Regions from separate parts of the Homo sapiens genome. Here all the other regions are linked to region 4. The links come from fine-mapping of genetic effects on gene expression. A gene starts in region 4. Each other region holds a variant in brackets. All regions are shown on one strand. Distances are between the middles of the regions.

The links. PIP is the estimated chance that this variant, and not a neighbour inherited with it, causes the effect. A credible set is the group of variants that fine-mapping cannot tell apart.
Region 1: its variant is the best candidate, but not a certain one, in a credible set for the expression of MYO18A in Th17 cells (Schmiedel 2018, PIP 0.61).
Region 2: its variant is the best candidate, but not a certain one, in a credible set for the expression of MYO18A in whole blood (TOPMed, PIP 0.70).
Region 3: its variant is the best candidate, but not a certain one, in a credible set for the expression of MYO18A in whole blood (TOPMed, PIP 0.87).

Annotation. Positions count from the first base shown.
Region 1 is chr17:29,104,983-29,110,182 of GRCh38, reverse strand. MYO18A (myosin XVIIIA) reads left to right here. Exons shown (of 42, transcript NM_078471.4): 19 at 82-325; 20 at 2,994-3,103. Among named protein-coding and RNA genes, the nearest start is that of PIPOX, 64 kb to the right of the region's middle. RefSeq lists an enhancer at 1,022-1,604. The variant TTA/A (reference allele first, on the strand shown) is at 2,578.
Region 2 is chr17:29,088,704-29,093,903 of GRCh38, reverse strand. It overlaps MYO18A (myosin XVIIIA), which reads left to right. Exons shown (of 42, transcript NM_078471.4): 32 at 477-581; 33 at 903-1,049; 34 at 1,448-1,561; 35 at 2,978-3,094; 36 at 3,289-3,372; 37 at 3,806-3,943. Among named protein-coding and RNA genes, the nearest start is that of PIPOX, 48 kb to the right of the region's middle. The variant C/G (reference allele first, on the strand shown) is at 2,761.
Region 3 is chr17:29,130,714-29,135,913 of GRCh38, reverse strand. All of the region lies in intron 2 of MYO18A (myosin XVIIIA), which reads left to right. Among named protein-coding and RNA genes, the nearest start is that of MYO18A, 47 kb to the left of the region's middle. RefSeq lists an enhancer at 2,529-2,823. The variant C/G (reference allele first, on the strand shown) is at 2,071.
Region 4 is chr17:29,177,535-29,182,734 of GRCh38, reverse strand. It overlaps MYO18A (myosin XVIIIA), which reads left to right and starts at 2,337. Exons shown (of 42, transcript NM_078471.4): 1 at 2,337-2,422. RefSeq lists silencers at 2,258-2,478, 2,444-2,493, 2,614-2,663.

The DNA.
Region 1 (5,200 bases), 73 kb after region 4:
GTGGAGACGCTGGCACCAGTCCCTGCTCTTCTGAGCACAGGCCATCAGAGCCCACTGAGGGCAGTCTCTTCCCCTCGGCAGGACGCCCTCATCGACACCATCAAGAAGTCAAAGCTGCATTTTGTGCACTGCTTCCTGCCTGTAGCTGAGGGCTGGGCTGGGGAGCCCCGTTCCGCCTCCTCCCGCCGAGTCAGCAGCAGCAGTGAGCTGGACCTGCCCTCGGGAGACCACTGCGAGGCTGGGCTCCTGCAGCTCGACGTGCCCCTGCTCCGCACCCAGCTCCGCGGCTCCCGCCTGCTCGATGCCATGCGCATGTACCGCCAAGGTGGGGCCTCCTTTCCTCTCCACTCTGGGCTCTCTTTTCCAGAGCTGGCCCTGCCCGGCCCCACCTCCCACCTGCGACCCGTGGGCTGCAGTGGGGCTGCTCCTGTCTTTCCTCACGATCCTTTCTGCTCTGGTCTCTCCTCATCTCTCCCAGCCCACAGCCCCTTTGTCCATTTCCTTCCATCCTGCAGAGTCCCCGCCTCCTCCTCTCCCTTCCATATTCAGTTCTCTTTGTCCCCCTCCCTTCCTAGCTCCACCCTGCACCTTGTCATTTGTCCACAGCTCCCTTTCTTCCCACGTCCCTAGTTTGGACAGTTCAGCTTTGCCCACAGCAGCAAACCCAGTGCCCTTTCGGAGCCATCTGCCCAGTGAGAAATGAGGTGCTAAATCTTTCTGAAGTACTTAAAATTCCCAAGAAAGGTCAGACAGACCCTTTTTTATGGACCCATCTAAAGGAGGCGACAGACAGGATGATAGTATTAGTGGTTACTTAGAGTCCTTAGAAGCTGTTATCGGTGGCTGGGGGCCGGGATAGCACACTGGTATCATTCCAGATGAGGAGACTGAGGCTCAGAGAGGTTAAGTAGCTTGCCCAAGGTCACACAGCTCCTGAGTGGCAGAGTGGGATTTGACCAGGCAGGCTGGCTGTAGAGTCATGTCTCATGTCTCTCAAGTAGGGTGGGTTTTTTTTGTTTTTTTTTTGTTTTTTGCCTGAGAAGTTATGAGTTGCTGGGTTTCTGCTGTTTTTCTCCTTCACTAGAAGAGCAGGTAGGGTCCCACCCACCCACAGCCAGGTCCCCTTCAGGCATTCCCATGGGCACTAAAACTTCCTTAGCAGCCCAAGCCAGGAAACAGGCTCCCTGCCCTGCTCTAAATAAATCATCGATCTGTCCCCACGTCTTGATATGGAGTTGGTGTTTATTATTTCAAAACCAGATTGTTACCGCTCTGAACCAAAATCAATGTGCGTTACTCAAACAAGCAGATCGATGAGGCCAGCAGCGGCAGGCCCCCCTTCCCTCACCCGGCCCCCAGCCACCGCACTATAGCACTGATGATTAATTAAGATGCCAGGCGTCCAGACCTGCTATCCTGGCCCATCAATTTAATTGCAATTCAGATACAATCAATAGCTCACTTTGTCTTGGCCCCTCAGCAGCCCCCACCTCCTGTTTCAATTATCAGGCACATGCATCAGCCTCACCTCCCAGCTGGAGGGTTTCCCAGAGCCAGCTAGCCCGTCATTGCTGTGGAGCATGCCCTTGGCTAGCTGTCAGGAGTCCAGGTTTGGAAGCCAGTTCTGCCCCCAGCAGCAGCCTTTGTGACCTTGAGCAAGACAGTCGCTCCTCCCAGGCCTCCGTTTCTGTGTCTGAAAGATGAGTTGGATCTGGCTTAAGATCCCTTTCTGGTTTGAAATTCTGTGATTTTGTGGGAGTGGAGTTCGTGGCCCTCCACCCTGGGCTCTGGTAAGATCAGGGTGACTTGGGGTCACTTCCTGCTAGCCACTGCTCTGACCCACTTTGCTCCAAGCCAAAAGTCAGGTCACACCTCCCCTGACCTGAAGCCCAGACACTCTTCAGGGAAAGAGAATCTACAAGTCTTTTTGGTCACCTGGCCTAGGACTCAAGGTCAGGGTGAGGCAAGGAGGGCAGCCTTTCTCATGTCCTGCTCTAGTGGACAGAGGGGGAAAAGGAGTGTTTATTAAATGCCAACCAAGTGAGTCACACTGTGCTTTTTACCTGGTTTCTCATTTAATCTCCATGACTACCATTCGAGATAAGTGCGAGGGCCGCTGTTTAAAGGTGAAGAAACTGAGGCTCAGAAAGGTTGAGTGACTGGCCCAAGGTCACATGATCCTAAGAGGCAGGGCCAGGAATCCAGCACCTAGCCAATGCGCGATTCCTCTCAGCTACTCTCTGGTGCCTTTTTTTTTTTTTTTTTTTGAGACACAGTCTTGCTCTGTCTCCCAGGCTGGAGTGCAGTGGTGTGATCTTGGCTCACTGCAGCCTCTGCCTCCTGAGTTCAAGCGATTCTTCTGCCTCGGCCTCCTGAGTAGCTGGGACTACAGGCATGCACCACCATACCCGGCTTACTTTTTTGTACTTTTGGTAGAGACAGTTTTACCATGCTGGCCAGGCTTGTCTAAACTCCTGGCCTCAAGTGATCCTCCCACCTTGGCCTCCCAAAGTGATAGGATTACAGGCGTGAGCCACCACGCCTGGCCTGGTGTCTTTTTTTTTTTTTTTTTTTTTT[TTA/A]AGACCATAAGACATTATTTTGTCTGGGTTATCACTGAGGCATAGACTTGGAGGGCTGGAAAGCATCTTGGGGATTGGGATGTAGCCTTCCTCCCAGCTGGTCAGCTACCCCACAACCCCCCATTTGCATACCTCACTGACTACTAGGAGCTTACTTCTCTCTGAAGGAGGCTGTTCCTTTTTTGGGCCTTCCTATCCCCCTGTGGAGCAGGCCTGATTGTCCTCCTGACCTTCTCTTCCTCTTCCCTGCCTACCCCCTCTCCTTTCTAGGCCTGCCTTCAACCACAGGCTCCCCACCCCCTGCAGTTTCTTCCCTTTTGGTGACTCTCCACTGACTGCCCAGGCACAGTGGCTACTGGGGTGTGCTGGGAGCAGGTGGCGTTGACAGGCCTGGCTCTGGGCTGCTCTCTCTAGGTTACCCTGACCACATGGTGTTTTCCGAGTTCCGCCGCCGCTTTGATGTCCTGGCCCCGCACCTGACCAAGAAACACGGGCGTAACTACATCGTGGTGGATGAAAGGCGGGTAGGTCCAGGTCCCCAGACCGCTCTCCCTCTGCCCAGGCCCCTCAAGCAGCTGCCCTTTCCAGACTCATCTGCCTTCCCTTCCCTGGAGACAGCTCATCTGGCCCTGCTCAGGCTCCCAGTTTTGGAAGCACCCAGCTGTGTCCTGGGGCCCAGACCATAGGAGCTGGAGAAGAGCCACCCCCTCCTTGGAGGCCTGAGCTGGGGGTGTCTGCTTGCTGGTGAGCCAGACAATCATCCAGGAGCGAGCAGGGCCTGGGCGCACTGAGGGTGCATGAGAATTATTAGTGCTTTGGGAGCCCCACCGATGGCACCTGGGCCCCCATGTCAGGGATTGGTTCCTGAAGCAGGAAGCTGTCCAGGGCTGGGCGAACATTCCTCCTAGAAGGAAGGTGGATATGGTGAGACCTCCGTGGTGCCAGGTGAACATAGGCTGCCGGGCCATTTGCCGGCCCTGGTTGGTGAACTTGTGGCTGCGGAAGGGGTGTCCCTGCCCGTCTGGGCTATCACCTTGAGCCCCAGAGGCAGCCCCTTAGACAGTCACAGGGCTCCCAGAGCAGAGGACCCCTCCTTTACTGTGCTCGGGCCTCAGGCATCCAGCCTGATTCTGAAAGCACCTCAGACCTTAGGATGGCTTCCCTAAATGGAGAGGATGCTGCAGAATGGGGCAGAAAGCCCACAGAGTGCCCAGCCTGCCTCTGTGTGTGCCCCCCTGCCCCTCCACCCCTGCCTTAAAGACCTGAATTCATGGAGGGGGCTCGGAAGAACTTCCCTCCATCCTTTGGCCTGCTGGTGGCCTGGGCAACCTCATGTGGACATAGATGCCCGTCCCACGCCCCCTTCTCACAGGCCCTCAGCCTCCATTCCAGCCTCCCACCTGTGGCTACACCAGTACCTCATCAGCTCTGGAAATGCCCCAGCTCCAAAATCATAAATCCCAGCATGGCCTTCTCTGACCACAGCCTCGTGCCTGCTGGTCCCACTCCTCTCTTCCCCTCAGGACACCCGCTCTCTGGCTCCATCAGAACCTCTCTTTCTGGATCACACTCCATTTCTCTGTGAATTGTCTCCTTTTCCATGGTTCACTCTGCAGTCACTCGGCCTCCCTCACCCTCAGCCCTCCTGAGCCTCCCGCAGCACCTGGCCTGCCCAACTCCCACCGAAGCGCCAGCCTCTGGGTGTCTGCACTCCTTGCTTTGGGCTCCCAAGGGTGGTGGGAGAAAATTATACAACTTTGTGGACTTGACTTCCTACAGGTTCATGGTCTTCAGCCTTTGGTGGGCCCTCAGGGGGACCAGCAAGTCTTCTAGATGTCCCCTCCTTATCTGGCCGTGACTCCAGGCTTCCTGTCTGCTATTGCATTCTCCATCTTTCTTCTCAAATCCTCCCCGCCCCACCTTCCTGGCTCACCTTCCCAGCAGATGCCCAGCCTTCAGATCTCAGGACATCAGGCTCCAGCTTCTTCTGCCTCCTGCAAACCTCTCTTCCCTAGCCTCCTTCTTCCCGTACCCCTTCTGTCTTGGTGGGGAGGGTCCCTCTCATCCAGTCCCTTGATCCTGTGCCTTGGAGTCCATTTCCTTGGGTCTCCCCAGAGACCCATTCCATCAGTGTGAATTCACTTCTCTCTCTTTTTCCTCTGGCATCTCTTTTTCTCCTGGCCCTTTTCTCTCCACGGAGAAACTCCCCACAGACCTGCAGGTTTTGCTCTCTGGAAGGAGCCTCTGTCATCGTCTCCCTGGACTGTGCTCTGCCTCCTGCCTGCCCTGGGCTTTCCTCCTGCTGCCCTCACTGCCCATGGCTGCCTGGTCCCTCTCCCTGATGCCCTGGCACTGGTCTTCTCATCCCTCACGCCCTCCATATTGCCAGAGCCAACCGGCACTTTTCTTTTTTTTTTTTTTTTTTTTTTTTTGAGACAGAGTCTCGTTCTGTCGCCCAAGCTGGAGTGCAGTGGCGCCATCTGAGCTCACTGCAAGCTCCGCCTCCCAGGTTCACACGATTCTCCTGCCTCAGCCTCCCAAGTAGCTGGGACTACAGGCCCATGCCCAGCTAATTTTTTGTATTTTTAGTAGAGATGGGGTTTCACCATGTTAGCCAGGAT
Region 2 (5,200 bases), 89 kb after region 4:
CTCCCTACCTCAGCCACATCGTCTTCCATTGTCATTCTGGGCCAGGAAGCGCCTCTCGGGATCCTAGCATTGGCAGGATGTATTGGCTCAGAGTCTGTAGAGAAGCTTGGGCCCCTGAGGAACTATCGCTCCCTGCTTTCTGTGCCAGGGGCAGCCCCCTGTGCCCCTGCTGTGCTGCGCTGCACTGGTGCTGCCTGCAGTCAGCCAGCCTGGCCGGGCAGGTCTCCACCATGCGGCAAGGTCTCTCCTACTCTGTCTTGGCTAGCCACCGCATGTGGCCTGCCATCCCTCCTCACCCTCCCAGGCTGCTTTGAAACCCTAGAAACCTGGAATTTAGGTTCTGACCCCTCCACCAACATCATTGTGCTCAGGCCTGCCCCACTGTTTTCCTGGAGTGGGGAACCCAGAATGGAAGGGGCCTGCTTCGCACCAGGCACTAAAGGGACGGACGGGTCTCTGTCCCCATGGTACTCCAGTTAAAACAGATGGAGGTGCAGCTAGAGGAAGAGTATGAGGACAAGCAGAAGGTTCTGCGAGAGAAGCGGGAGCTGGAGGGCAAGCTCGCCACCCTCAGCGACCAGGTCAGGGGATGCTCCACCCACCAAGCCTGGCCGGCTCCCTGCCCATGCGGCCTGAGGAGTGGGGATCCTAGGGATGGGGAGCCACGAACAGAGCTGTCGGGGGTGGGGGTGCTGCAAAGAGCCCATCGTCATCCCTTGTGGGATGGGGGCATCACCATACATTGGCACACCCAGCCCTTTATCGCTGGTTGGCATGACCCTGGCTCTTCCAGCATCCTTATGGGGACACTGATAATGAGGACGTGGTGAGGAGGGAGCTTGGGGAAGATAGGAGGAAGCCCTGTGCAGAGCCCAGAACCCCAACTGCTGGTGCCCACCCAGGTGAACCGGCGGGACTTTGAGTCAGAGAAGCGGCTGCGGAAGGACCTGAAGCGCACCAAGGCCCTGCTGGCAGATGCCCAGCTCATGCTGGACCACCTGAAGAACAGTGCTCCCAGCAAGCGAGAGATTGCCCAGCTCAAGAACCAGGTATCCACAGAGAGCACACGGCTGATCCAGGCACAACAGAGCTTACCTTTCCATTCTCTTTCTCTCTCTCGCTCCTCTCAGTGGTTCTTGAGTCCTTGGGAAGGAAAGTGACAGGAAAGAGGGGAGAGCCACGTGTAGCAGCTAGACTCCCCAGGCTCTGCGTGTGCCTTACTGTCTCACCGCCCAGCCTGGGATGGTGTGGATGGGGCCTGGTGCCCACCAGCCATGTCACGGGAGGAGATCCCCACGCGTGCACCACCACACAGCCATGGCCCTGGGGTCTGAAGTGAATGGAGGAGGAGAAGGAGGGCATCCGAGCTCCCTCTTTCCTGTACAGCCCTCCTGCCCCCAAGGAATGGCTGACATCTCTCCCTGGGGCGGGGGTGGTCTGTGTCCAGCTGGAGGAGTCAGAGTTCACCTGTGCGGCAGCCGTGAAAGCACGGAAAGCAATGGAGGTGGAGATCGAAGACCTGCACCTGCAGATTGATGACATCGCCAAAGCCAAGACAGCGGTGAGGGGCCAAGGTGCCCGGGGCAGAGCTCGGGGGGCTGAGGCAGAATAGAGCTGCCTCTGTGGCTCCCTTCACCCTAGACAGGTCCCTCCACGTCAGGACTTGTGACAGGTCCTTTCACGCCAGGACTTGCTGCAGGAAGAGCGGGCCTCCCCTCCTCTGCGTCTCTCCACACTGAGCAGAGGCCTCGGGGAGGAGCGGGCAGAAGAGGGAGCCAGCAAGGGCCCATCTCCCTGTTTAACCACCTGCCTACGGGAGCTTGGCCGCAGGCCCCAACACCATAAATAAAGGCAGCTAATGTGGCTGAGGGATGTAAACAGGTGCCTAGAGATTAGCAGAAGCACAGATAAGAGGACAGGATGGCTTGGCTTCCTTCCCCTTCCCCCTGCCCAGCCCACTGACAAGCCCAAGCGGCAGCTAATTAGAGCTCTTATTTAATGCCTCCCTTTTAATTTCCCACCTCTCCCACGGCCCATCCATCGGCAGAGAATTCATTACTGGGATGCGGCCAGTACAGGCAGCTCCTTGAGCATCACTGGTCCTGGGACCCACCCCAGTGGGCAGGCCCCTTGGGCAGGGAATGGGGCAGGGGAGGAGGCTGGGCTGGGCTGGTGGCTTCATGGCCCCTGAGCTAGTCACCTAGCTGCTGAGAGATGCCAATCTCACGGGCTTGATTTATCCCCATGACATTTGTGCTCCTCAGCAGTTCTCAGGTGAGTAATTCAAATTCCTTAATTGTGTTAAAAAAGGTTGTTATAAAATTACCATTTTATTTAAATCTGAGTTAATAAATTTCTTGGCGGAGGCTTCCCCAGCTCCCCACAGCCCAGTAACAAGATGGATGGGGCAGAGAAGGAGCCAACACAGTCATTTTGGTTTGGAATTACAGGCTAATAGATTCATTCATTTCCTGAAGCTGCTGTTGGATCTCTCTTCCCCTCCCCCAAGGAGGGGACTGGCTGTCGGGGCTGGATGCCCAGGGAGTGGGCAGTCCCAGGGAAAATGAGAGTCTAAGCCAGGAGACCTTCGCAGACTTGAGGGGTCCTTCCCTGGGGCCTGAAGGGGGCAGAGTGCACGCAGGCCAGGGCCTGGACTGATAGTGCCAGGATGATGGGTCATTTGTTCTGGGCAGACCTTTTCTGCCTTCTCATTAGCCTCAAAGGAGCTGCCAGGAAGCAGCTGTCATTCAGCTCAGAGGC[C/G]CAGGGTCTGCCTGTACTGCACACAGCCCTTTCCCTCATCTCCCTGGTCCAGAGCGGGACAGGCAGCTCCTTGAGCATCACTAGTCCTGGGACCCACCCCAGCAGGCAGGCTCAGCCCATTATCATCTTCTCTACAATGCCCCTGCCATTGGAGGCAGCTGGAGCCCACAGGCACACTGGGCCTGAGGCCCTCTGATCTGTCTTTGCCTCTCTCCAGCTGGAGGAGCAGCTGAGCCGCCTTCAGCGTGAGAAGAATGAGATCCAGAACCGGCTGGAGGAAGATCAGGAAGACATGAACGAATTGATGAAGAAGCACAAGGCTGCCGTGGCTCAGGTACCCCTGCCAGGAGTGCCCGTCACACTCTGCACCGTCACCATCCTTGTGGTCCTCCTCATGGGTCCCCCGCACAACCGCTTGTTTTGGGAGGTGATGGAGTGGGAACCTCGGTCCCCTGGTGTTCCAGCTGGGCTGGGCTGGTTGAATGCTTATGGGGGATCCTGCTTCTGATGCTCTCATTCCTTTCCCAGGCTTCCCGGGACCTGGCTCAGATAAATGATCTCCAAGCTCAGCTAGAAGAAGCCAACAAAGAGAAGCAGGAGCTGCAGGAGAAGGTGAGGACCAGGGGCTCCCTCAGGAGAGAGAGAGTGCCAGGGTCACTAGGTGTGGGAGGAACCCCCAAGTTCACAGTTTAGAAGGCGCTTTTCTCTGCCATCAGTAATCCACAGAGCAGCGTAAATGAGGAGCAAGAGCTAGGCTTGGAGCCATGTCACCATAACAGACATTTGGGCTTCCCCTGCCTCATTTCCCATCTGTATTCCCTCTCCGATCCTTAGCTTTCTCCTTTCTCTCTGAAGGGCAATCTCTGTGCCAAGCACTGGGGCAGATGGGGGAGGCCTCTGGCCCAGGGCTCCATTCTCTTTCCTCCCAGGTGCATCCCTCCCTCCCCTTGCCTTCTGGTCACTGTGGTGATATTGCCTGCCCCAGACGCAGTCTCCTCCCTTTCTGGGCTCAGTTCTTTCTTCTCTTCCTGTCCCCCACCTCTAGCTACAAGCCCTCCAGAGCCAGGTGGAGTTCCTGGAGCAGTCCATGGTGGACAAGTCCCTGGTGAGCAGGCAGGAAGCTAAGATACGGGAGCTGGAGACACGCCTGGAGTTTGAAAGGACGCAAGTGAAACGGCTGGAGGTGGGTTCACACTTCTCCCGGGCCACACCAAACAGGGCAGAGCTGCCCCAGCGCTGGAGCCGCGCATGCTCAGCAGGGCTGGACAGGCCCCCGGACAGTCCTCAGAGGCCTGTGCCTCACTGCCAGGCCAGCTGACGGGCAGGTGCTTCTCTCCCGCCCTGCCTGGCCTGCTCTCTGGCTACCGTGGAGCCCGCCTGCTTTACATTCTGTTTCCGTGCTTGCTTTCTGCCAAGGGACCAGAGCAGCTTAGCTCTTCGTCTTCATATTTTCCTCCACCACGAGCTCCCCCCGCCTGTTCCCCTCAACCGGTTCTCTGGCAGGGTCATAAATATGCAGCGGATGGTGCCACTTCTGCGCAGGCTGGAATCTGTTCTCTCATCTGCCCTCGCTCTGCTCCTCTCCCCTTCCCTGCTTCATTCCCTTTCTTCCTCACTTCTTCTGCCCTCCTGTCTCTGCTTTTTTTTTTCTCTCTCCCTTTTTCTTGATTATGATCCTATTCTTTCTTCTCCCTTCATTTTTTTTTTTTTTTTTTTTTTTTTTTGAGACAGAGTCTCACTCTGTCGCCAGGCTTGAGTGCAGTGGTACGATCTCGGCTCACTGCAACCTCCACCTCCCGGGTTCAAGCGATTCCCCTGCCTCAGCCTCCCGAGTAGATGGGACTACAGGCACGTGCTTTTTTTAAATTGTATTTTAGTAGAGAGGGGGTTTCACCATGTTGGCCAGGATGGTCTTGATCTCCTGACCTCATGATCTGCCCGCCTCGGCCTCCCAAAGTGCTGGGATTACAGGCATGAAATATTTTATATTTTTTCCTCTCTCCAATCTTATTTCTCTTTCTTACCCTCTTCCCATCCCATTCTCCTCTCCCTTTATTATAAGGTTCATTCTCTCTTCTTCCCCTTTTTTTTTTTTTTTGAGATAGGGTCTCGCTCTGTTGCCCAGGCTGTAGTGCAGTGACGCAATCATGGCTCACTGTAGCCTTGACCTCCTGGGCTCAAGCAATCCTCCCATCCTCCTGCCTCAGCCTCCTGTGTAGCTGGGACCACAGGCATGTGCCACCATGCCTGGCTAATTTTTGTATTTTTTGCAGAGACAGGGTTTTGCCTTGTTGCTCAGACTGGTCTTGAACTTCTGGGCTCAAGCAATCCGCCTGCCTCAGCTTCCCAAAGTGTTGGGATTACAGGCATGAGCCACCATGCTGGACCAATCCTTTTTCTTTCGGTCTCCCAAAGCCAGTATTGGCCAGCCCCTTCCATC
Region 3 (5,200 bases), 47 kb after region 4:
TTGAGAAACAAGCATGTGCTTGGGCAATGGACAATGGGGTCTCTACCCCCTCAAGCATTTATCCTTTGGGTTATAAACAATCCAGTTCCAGGATAACTTGCTCTTGATCCTAAACAAATTCAGTGATAAGGGAGAGAGGAAAACTGTCTAGGCAATTCTGCATAAAAGCCACAGAGAGAATTTCCTCTGGGGAGAGCCCCACATCTGTGTTCAGAGTGAAGCTCATAGGAACAGCTGATGCAGAGGAACAGGCCTGGGTGGAAATGGCCCGGTGTCCTCACAGCCTGGGCCAGATGGGACCTCTATAGACAAGTAGGAAAACTTGAACAAGAGATCAAAGATCAAACGAGTTAAAATTACACCAACAGACAAACTTAAAGTCTCTAGCACATTAACTGAATAATAAAACAGAAGTCAACAAAGCAAAATAGAAATAATTAATTGAAAACAAAACATTTCCTAATTTTTAACTATTATTCATGATAAGCAGTTTTAAGAATGAACCAGTTCTTGGCCGGGCGCGGTGGCTCACCTCTGTAATCCCAGCACTTTGGGAGGCCAAGGCGGGTGGATCACGAGGTCAGGAGATGAAGACCATCCTGGCTCACACGGTGAAACCCTGCCTCTACTAAAAAAATACAAAAAATTAGCTGGGCATGGTGGTGGACACCTGTAGTCCCAGCTACTCGGGAGGCTGAGGCAGGAGAATGGCGTGAACCCGGGAGGCGGAGGTTGCAGTGAGGCAAGATTGCACCACTGTACTCCAGCCTGGGTGATAGAGTGAGATGAGACTCTGTCTCAATTAAAAAAAAAAAAAGAACCAGTTATTAAACTCCACTGAAGTGCCCTGATTCTTTGGATGCAGCCTCTCCCTGGACTGAGGCAGATTCTGACTTGATTTTTCAAGCGGCCCAGCTCTGGTTTCTAATCCATAGATGGACAGTTTTGCAGTTCTCCGGGCCTCTTGCCCCACGTAATTGTGTGTTACAGCTGGAAGGCAAAGTCGCTGGGGTCCTGAGGCAGATTCCTCAATTCCTCTCCTAGGTCACAGGCCTGCAACTTTGGTTTACTGTATTAAGGGTTTGAGTGTTGGCTGGGCGTGGTGGCTCACACCTGTAATCCCAGCGCTTTGGGAAGCTGAGGCAGGTGGGTCACCTGAGGTCAGGAGTTCGAGACCAGCCTGACTAACATGGAGAAACCCCGTCTCTACTAAAAATACAGAAATTAGCCGGGCGTGGTAGCGGGCGCCTGTAATCCCAGCTACCTGGGAGGCTGAGGCAGGAGAATCGCTTGAGTCCGGGAGGTGGAGGTTGCAGTGAGCCGAGATCACGCCATTGTACTCCAGCCTGGGCAACAAGAGTGAAACTCCGACTCAATAAATAAATAAATAAATAGAGTTTGAGTGCCTCTCCCCACGTAGACTCCTAAGGTGCCAGACATGGAGAGGCCTTGAGCCATTGTCTAGACTAGCCCCTAATTCTACAGAGAGGCCCAAAGAGGCGAAGTGGCTTATTCAAAGCACACAGCTTCTGGCCGGGCACGTCAGCTCACACCTGTAATCCCAGCACTTTAGGACGCCAAGGCGGGTGGATCACCTGAGGTCAAGAGTTCGAGACTAGTCTGGCCAACATGGTGAACCCCCATCTCTACTAAAAAGTACAAAAATTAGCTGGGCGTGTTGGTGCCGGGGAGGCTGAGGCAGGAGAATCACTTGAACCCGGGAGGCAGAGGCTGCAGTGAGCCGAGATGGCACCATTGCACTTCAGCCTGGCCTACAGAGTGAGACTGCATCTCAAAAAATAAAAATAAAAAAATAAAAACAATGCACACAGCTTCCAAGGGTAGGGAGTGCTATGTTCTGTGCCTACTTTCCTTCATTTTCCTTTAATATTTTATTCCTTACTCCAATGCCCTCTTGAGTTTTGTAATCCTTCCTCCTCCACTCCATCCCTCCTTTCCCCTTGTTGCCCACAGTGTTTATCCTGGCAGGTTCTGGCCTTTGGGAAGACTCAGAGACACTGAGAGACCCTGCCCCCCATTTCTTCTCTGACCCAGGGCACAGGTTACCTT[C/G]AGCGCCATGGCCTTTTCATCAAGGTTCGCCTTCTGGGAGCAAAAGGAAAGTTGGATTTTAAAATCTTTATGTTTTTCCTGTGTGCTTGGCATGTTGTATCTGCAGGCAGGAGACTGGCTTGTGGGAGAGGGAGCTTTGGAAGCTAGAGATGGATTGGGGCATGTGTGTATAATTGGGGGTGGCAGGGAGAATGACGGGGGCTGGTGAACTCCCTATTCTGGCTGGATGGGCTCCTGCACTGAGTCATGCTTCTCCCCTAAGCCCCACCTCTGGTAAGGTGAGCTGCCTTTTGTCCTGCTGGTGTCCCTCTGGGTTAACCCCTCCACACCCTTCCCACCACCCTGCTGCCTTGACTCACCCCTGGAACGTGGGCTGCTGTGGAGGGACCGCTGGAACTGGGTCTCCCTGATCCTGGGGGCTGCAGTGGGTTAGGAGGACAAGGGGCCAAGGGTGGGGAGTCAGGCCAGTTGGCCACCTGGGTCCAGAGGGTGATTCAGGCCACAGACTTGGGACTGCCTGTGTGTGTGCCTTTATGCGTGTGCATAGTCCCCAGCTGGGCAGTGACCTACAACAGCCAGAGCCCTTCTGATGGGGGAGGGAGGAGTGAGTCAGCCTGATGCTAAATCCAGAGCTGAGCTCAGAGCTGGGCCCAGTGTTTCAGACACTTGGGGGGCACCCAGTGTTTTCCCCAATGCCACACCTTGGGCCAGACATTTGGGGTCCCAAACTTGAGCCACTGGAGGGAGGACAGATTTGGAGCTGGTGAAGAACACAGAGTGGACTTGGAATCTGGGCCACCCCGGCACCCAAGTTAACAGCACTGCGTGCAGTAATGAGTGTGTCTGTGTGGTTTGCGAACACTTGTCCTCCCACTAACCTGTGTGCCCCAGAACTACTGCATGGTGTGATCCCTGGGGCAGCAAGGGGGAGAGTGATGGCTTGGTGGGGGGCAGCAGGCACAGACCTAGACCCTGCCACTCTTCCTCCCTCTGTCCACCAGTCCCTCCCTTCCCTTTCTCTGCTCCGATTCCAATTCTTAAAGAAGTAGGCTCCACTCTGGTGAATATTTGCCATTTCCCCTCGTCCTTGGCATTGTGAGCTAACTATGAAGATTGAGCCCGTTGCAGATAGCTCTGTGGACAAGATGCAGCTTTAAAACTGCAGCAGCCATCACGCCAGCCAGTGCCCCTGGCACTGCTAATTTGAGCTCAAAATTAGCCACAGACCCTGGTTAAAATTGGAGAGTCCCCCCAAGTGGATCATGTAAATGATTCTGGATGTTTCTAAAGATTTTTTCCCTTAGGAATCAAGGACTTCTTGCCATGCTCCTACCCACATTGTGCTGGGAAGGAGAGGCACGCTGAGGAGGAGGTAGGGTTGGTAACAGGGCTGTCTTTTTCCTGTAGTCCTAGGTGACGCGGGAAAGAGGAGAAATTAAATCCATAGGACTGCCTGAGCTTTTGGAGGGAGAGATACTGGTGAGGGGAAAGGAGAAGACTTTTTAAAACTTGAGGCCTGGCCTCTCTGAATCTGTTGTGAGCCAGTTTCTGAACTGAAAGAACCTTCAGAGCTTCCACATCATCTGCCCTTTTTCCAGATGTGTGATGGTATCTGCTGTTTCCACGACTCCACTCCTCCCCTCTGACTCAGGCCAGCCAGCTCCTGGGCTCCAGCACAAACCCCTGGCCCCAGTGTCCAGAGCTTAGGCATCTTTCCTTCCTCCATACCCCGCCCCTAACTTCAGGGTTCCCTCCCTCGGCTGCGTGGTTGGCAGTTTTGTGGGTCTGAGGTTGAGAAAATATCTGGCCTCCTGAATCTCCGCCTCTGCCCCACTCCCTGCCTCCAGCAAGATCTCAGCTGAGCTGGGGGAGTTGTGCAGGATCAAGAAGTAAGCCAGAGCCAGCCCAGTAGGGGCCAACCTTCACTCTACTCTAAAAGCTGCTGGCCCACAGGTACCCACACTGGGTTACTTTTACCTCCTCAGTCACTAGATCTGGGGCTTTTTGTTCAAACCACTTCTTGCCTGAGCTAGGGATGACTCTTGTAGTTTGGATGAGTTAAATTAGCTGGATCTTCCCATCTGCCACGTAACCAAAGCCACGATGGCACTGTGGGTGGACCTCTTTAGACAGCCCCCAAAGTGGGCAAAGTGGCTGGTTGCTGAGGGCAAGGGTACTTGGCTTTTTCCCCCACAGACTCTTCATTCTTGAAGTCATCACTGAACAGTTCTGATTCTAGGATAGGATAGCTCTTGCCCAGGTCCCCTAGCCCCGGTATTCCTAAAGACTCAGGAGCTCCACCTCAGGGTGAGGGAGGCCCCTTGAATGTTCTCTCCCTGTGCTTTTAGTGCTGGGTCTCCCAGCCTTGACCTGCCAGTGACTTCTTCATCTGCTCCCTCAGGTTAAAGAGGAGGACAAAACTCTGCCAAAGCCTGGCTCTCCTGGCAAGGAGGAAGGGGCTGTAAGTGCATCCTTGAGTTCTCCGAGGCATGCGTGTGTGTGTGCGGGCATGTGTGTGTGCATGCGTGCATGTGTGTGTGCGTGTGTGTGTTTGCCCCTGCACCCACTAGCCCTGGACTAGCCTGTGAGACAGCTCCATGGAGTAGGTGGGGATTGCAGGGGGCCCCTTCCTGTGTGGCTCAGCTGAAGAGAATTCTAGTAAAGGGGAAGAAAGTACGGTGTATGTGATGCCAGCTTCAGGTGTGTGAAGGAGATGGCCAAGGTGCTTTGGGGACCTCCCCTAACCTCCTCCCCAATCCCCTTAAGTTGCCTCCCTTTGGTTCTGGTTTCCTGAACCCTTTGGGCCTGGAGAGGCTTGGGTGGGCAAACTCTTAGGTCAGGGAGCGTCGAATGAGAGCTCAGCTGTTGGGATTCTTCAGCCTGCTCTGGGTGGCACAAGGCAAAGGCATGGAGGGACTTCACTGTAGTCGCTGCTGTCTCTTCCAAGACCCTGTCAGCTGCTTGGTGCAGGTGACCTGGAGGCAGGCTCCAGCTACTCACTGCCTCCAGCCCCAGCGCATTGGGATAGAGACCCTGAATAAACCTGGACTCTCCTAAGGCAAGAATAGCCTTAGGTTTCTGAATAGCCAAGTCCAAAGATGTGTAGTTAGGAGAGGGCAGCTGGTAGCAC
Region 4 (5,200 bases):
TGGCTTGTCTTCTCATTCTCTTGACAGTCTTTTGCAGAGCAGACATTTTTAATTTTAATGAAGCCCAGCTTATCAGCTCTTTCTTTTATGGTGCCTTTGGTGTTGTATCTAAAGAGTCATTGTGATACTCAAGGTCATCTAGGTTTTCTCCTATGTTATCCTCTAGGAGACAGTTTTATAGTTTTGTGTTTTACATTTAGGTATATAATCTATTCTGAGTTAATTTTTGTGAAGGGTATAAAGTCTGTGTCTAGACCCCCCCCTTTTTTTTTTTTTGCATGTGGATGTCCAGTTTGTTGAAAAGCCCCATGTGTTGAAAAGACTAAGCTTATATAATTTTCAAAACAAATTTTGAGGGAGGGAGTCACTGTTATTATCCCAATTTTTTGGATGAGCAAAGTGAAGCACAGAGAGGTGATTTATAAAAAATCACCCAGAGTAACACAGCTAGTACTTTACAGAACTGAGATTTTGAATCCAGGCAATCCAGCTCCAGAGTCCATGCACTCAACCCCTATCTATAATAATAATGTCTCCCTCATAGGTTCATTGTGAGGAGTAGAGATAGTGTCTAGTATATAATAGGTACTCAGGAAACACTAATGATAGTCGTTGTCCTACTTAGCCTGCAAGGTTCCGCTCAAATGTCATGTTTTTGGGGTTTTTTTTTTTTCTTTTTTGGAGACAGAGTCTTGCTCTGTCGCCCAGGCTGAAGTACAGTGGTGTAATCTCCGCTCACTGCAACCTCTGCTCCCCAGGTTCAAGAGATTCTCCTGCCTCAGCCTCCCAAGTAGCTGGGATTATAGACATGCACTACCACGCCTGGTTAATTTTTTGTATTTGTAGTAGTGATGGGGTTTCGCCATGTTGGCCAGGCTGGTCTTGAACGCTGGCCTCAAGTGATCTGCCCACCTCAGCCTCCCAAAGTGCTGGGATTACAGGCATAAGCCACCATGCCTGGCCTCAAATGTCATGTTTTTGAAGCTGCTCTTCTCACTCCTCAAGCCAAATAAGCCTCCCATCATAGCACCTATCTCATCATCCAAGTAATGCCAGCATGGTGAACCCTACTACTGTCACAGCTCAGGTCTACCTGTTCCCCATGTGATTTCCCTGGAGATATGCCATGTCTGATCTCCTTCTGTGTCACCCCAAGTGCCTGGGGCTGCACTTGGCACTTAGCAGGCAGTTTGTTAAATTGAATTTGAGTTGCATGTTATTCCAAAATGTGTATCCCGCCTGGGTCTATTCCTCAGGAACTCCCTAACTCTTACTCAACTCTCTGCTTTCTGAGCCTCCTTGCTCCAGCCTTCCCTGGTCTGTCAGGTTGGGCTGCCCTTGCCTGGAGAAGTTCCTGTTTGGGCTGTCTAGGGAGGTAGCAGCATTTGTCTGCTACACCCTTCTTCCTGCACCACCCCACTCAGTTTCTTCCACATTCTGGCACACCCCACTCCAGCATGGACACTGCCCAGGGAAGTGTCCCCATTTCTTTCTTTCTCCAAACTCTAGACATAGCACCTATCTTGGAGGCCTGGTATCTGGATGTCCCTTGGCCTCTCCCAGGAAGTATAAACTGTCTTCTTGGTGGGTACAGCAGCTCACTTGATATTTACAGCACACAGTGGACCCAGGGACAGACTGCATTCCAAAGAGCTTCTGAAAGTGTTAATCTTGGCATTGGTGAACTCCTTTAGGGAGTGAGTGGCACTTACAGCCATGGCTCCCGGGCCCTGGTACGCCTCTTGATCCACTCCATTTTGAGGCAGGGCTGTATCAGACCAAGCTATTGGGAGTCTGTTTTTACCTTGGGGAGTGCATTCTGGCAGTGCCATCTCGGACATGGCAGGCAGTACCTGGTCTGGACTGAGCCTGGGGCACCATCCAGCAGGGCCCTGTGTGTGCCTCTGCAGAGCCACCTTGGGAGGAGGCGGCCAGTAAGACTTAATTGCTTCCTTTAGACAGCACTACCTTGAACACAGCCTGCAGAGTTCGGTGCCTGCCTTGGACAGCCCCTCTTCTATACGTTCATCATGACCCTGGTGCCTGTCCTAGGCAGTGCCACTCAGCCCCTTTCGGACCCTTTTCGGACAGCCTCCAGTGCCCAGTGCAGACAGAAACTCCAGGCAGGGCCTCTCTCAGACACAGCGAGAGGGGCTTCGGAGTCCACAGCGGACGGAGGCTGCCAGGGCAGCGCCCGGCCCGCCTGGCCCACGTCTGGCGGCGCGCACTGGCGCTGCCAGGCAGGCCGGGCGTTTATCCCCACAGCCGCCAGCAGGGAGCTCCCTTTCGGCTCGGCCTGCGCGGTCGCTGGGGGCGGCGCTGAGCTGCGCCGCGCTGCGCTCTGCTCCATCCCTGACCGGGCCGAGGCTGCTGGATGCCGCGTCTCCGCTTCTGCTGCCTGCCGGGCGGGCTCCGGTGGCCGGTGAGTGCCGGTCGGCGGCGGCGGCCGCTCGGTGGCGGGCCCGGCTTGGTGGGGCGGCGGGGCGGGCTCCGGCCGGGAGGGAGGGCGGGCGGGCGGCGGGGCCCGCCGGCTCCTCCTCCTCCTCCCCCGTCCCCTGGAAGCAGCGGCCCGGACTCCCGGCTCCCGTCCCTGGCGGCGCCGTGGAGCTCGACGCCCGGGGGTGGGGGCCGATCGGGAGCGGCGGGGAAGGGGGAACCACCGGCCCTTCCAGCCAACCTGGGGGGCGCAGGGAGGCAGGACAGGGTGGCCTTCAGTGTGGGGGGATTTGGGGCTTGGAGGCGCCCAGGTGGCCCGGAGCTGCGGGGTGGGGGCTGCAGCCTCGAGGGTGGGGGGACTTCTCCTGCCCCCGTCCAGGCCCCACGATGGAGCGAGCGAGAGAGCGGGGCGCTGAGGAAGGCAGCGGGGAAGGGGAGCACCTCTACCGACCCTTTTATCCCTCCCAGCGGCCTTCACTCTTTCACTGCCGGGCAGACTGCGGGCTCCTCTCAAAGGAGCAGCTGCTAGACAGCTGGCAAAACAATGGAGACCCCGCTTCCCTGGGCCCCCTCCTCTTGGGACAGAAGATGAGAGGGTGAATGGTGGCAGGCTTTGGGGATTAGGGAGTGCAGGCTGTGCCCTGAGACTGAATGCTCACCTCACCTTTCCCTGCAGAGGGGTGGGGTGCGTGTGGGAAGGTCGGACAAGCTGCCCCAGGCCTCTGGAGAGACCGCCCCGACGCCCCGCCCTGCTAACCTGTCATGCCAGTTGTTTCGCCAATGGGAAGGGGAGGTGGTAGGGGTGGCTGCCCCCTCACCCTGCCCCTTGTTAGTGGGGGTGCGCTCCTTGGTCCCAAACCCGGCCAGGAGTGTGGGTCATGTTCCTGGGTGCGATAAGGCCCGCAGGGACAGGCCAGGCATTGGGGCTTTGTTTTGGGGGTGGAGATGGGGGAGTTGCCCTACTGCAAGGCACATGTGTCTTGCTGATTAGTTGGAAAGGTTGCGGCCAGAATGAGCTAGAGGTGGGGGGTGGGGGAGATGGGGAGGAAGACAGCCAGTTTGTTTTTGAGCGGGTATTCATTTTGCCTGACCACTTTGCCAATGGGGCATGTGTTTGGCGCTGGCCTCATAGTTTGTATTTGTGTGGGGAGGGCTGGGGGAATGCTTCCTGAGAGGGACTGTCCTGGCTAGGGCTTTCATTCCCTCAGATGGCCACCCCGAATTAAAGAATTGGATTCCCTCCCTGCTTCACCCTGCCAATGACTTGGGCTAGTTAGTGTGGGTTCGTCTTGTCTTTTGGAGCCCCTGGCGTGTCTGTGGCCGAGAAGGCCTCATCAGTGCCCCTGTGGCAAGTGAGCTCTGGGAAGTGTGTATGCACTGGGGTGTGCTGGAAGGGAGGGGAGGCCACCTGGGTGATTAAGAGCAAGATCACCTGAGCAGGACGGTGAGTACAGAGCCCATTGAATCAGCCGCCTTTCCCTTGTGCTTTGGAGCCCTTTTCTTGAGCAGGTTGGTGCCCTGTTGTTGTGGCAACAGGCCTGGCCTAATGTTCCCCACCCTTTTTAGTTCAGGGGCTACTTTCTATCTGGAGATATTGAAAGTTGCTCTCCTGAGGTCTCTGGCTTCCTGACAAGCCTCACTGGCTCTTTGTCCATGGCTTCCCACCTCCTCAGCTTCCTCTCTGTTTTTTTGTGATGAAGTCTTTCCAGGAAACATCCTCCTGGTTTCTGGATTTGACATGACGGGTTATATATAGCCTCGGGTGGAGGTGTGCTTGTCCATTTTGGGTTGAGGACATGGGGGTTGTGGCCTCAATTCCAGGAAAACCATGGCTTTGGGGGCAGCTATTGTGTTGAGGGATTAGGGGAATGAGAAGGGTTGTAGGTGGGGGTGGAGGGTGGGCATGGGAGGGGCCACAGGCTGGCGGTCACTTCCTTTGGGAGCTTTGAACTTTGAACAGTTGATGACCTGGTGCCTGGTAGCTCTGAGTGTCTAGTTTGTTTACTCTCTCCTGGCCTGGCCCAGGTGCCAGAGTGTGTGCCTGAGGGCTTCCTCCTGCGCCCCAGACTTTCCTCATGTGGGTTATGCCCTTCCTGACTCCCACCTGGTCTCTCAGCCTCACTCCTGGGCTGTCTGGGTAGCCAGCCAGTTCCCTGGAGGCCCCCTCACTGGCCCTGGTAGTGGCTATTCATTGAGGACTGCATGTGTCTTCAGAAACTGGGCCTGAAAACTCTGGGTCCCCCAGAGGCAGGTACCTAAAGGTGGACTGGGTGGGGCAGAACTGGGGCTCATGTGAAAGGGAGAATCCACCCTGCTGAGGTGGAGCTGGGAGTTGTTGGAACTCAGGAAGCCTTCATCTGGACTTGCTGTGTCACAGGTCTTCAGGGCAGCAGGGCTGTTCTTAATCCTTCAAACCAGAGGTCTCTCCTCAGCCAGATCCTCTCACCTGGGGTGGACGCCACAGGCAGGAGCCAGAGCATCCACGTGAGCTGGGTTTTGTTGGTGGCCTGGGGTCCCAGGCCTGAGTGTGGTGGGAAAACTGAGGGGCTCTGGCTGGTTGTAGTTTAAAGGTTTGGGGCAGTAGGAGGGCCCAGCCCACTGTCTGCTGTAATTGACAGGTTCCCACAGGACTTGGGATTGGTAGGGCAGCTTGATGGAGTTTAAGTTCTGCTTTGGGTCAGACCCCCGGGTGCTTTAAGATCTGCACACCCCACCCCATCACCATTTCTTCCCCCTAGCATTTTCCAAGGTGGCCTGAATTAGA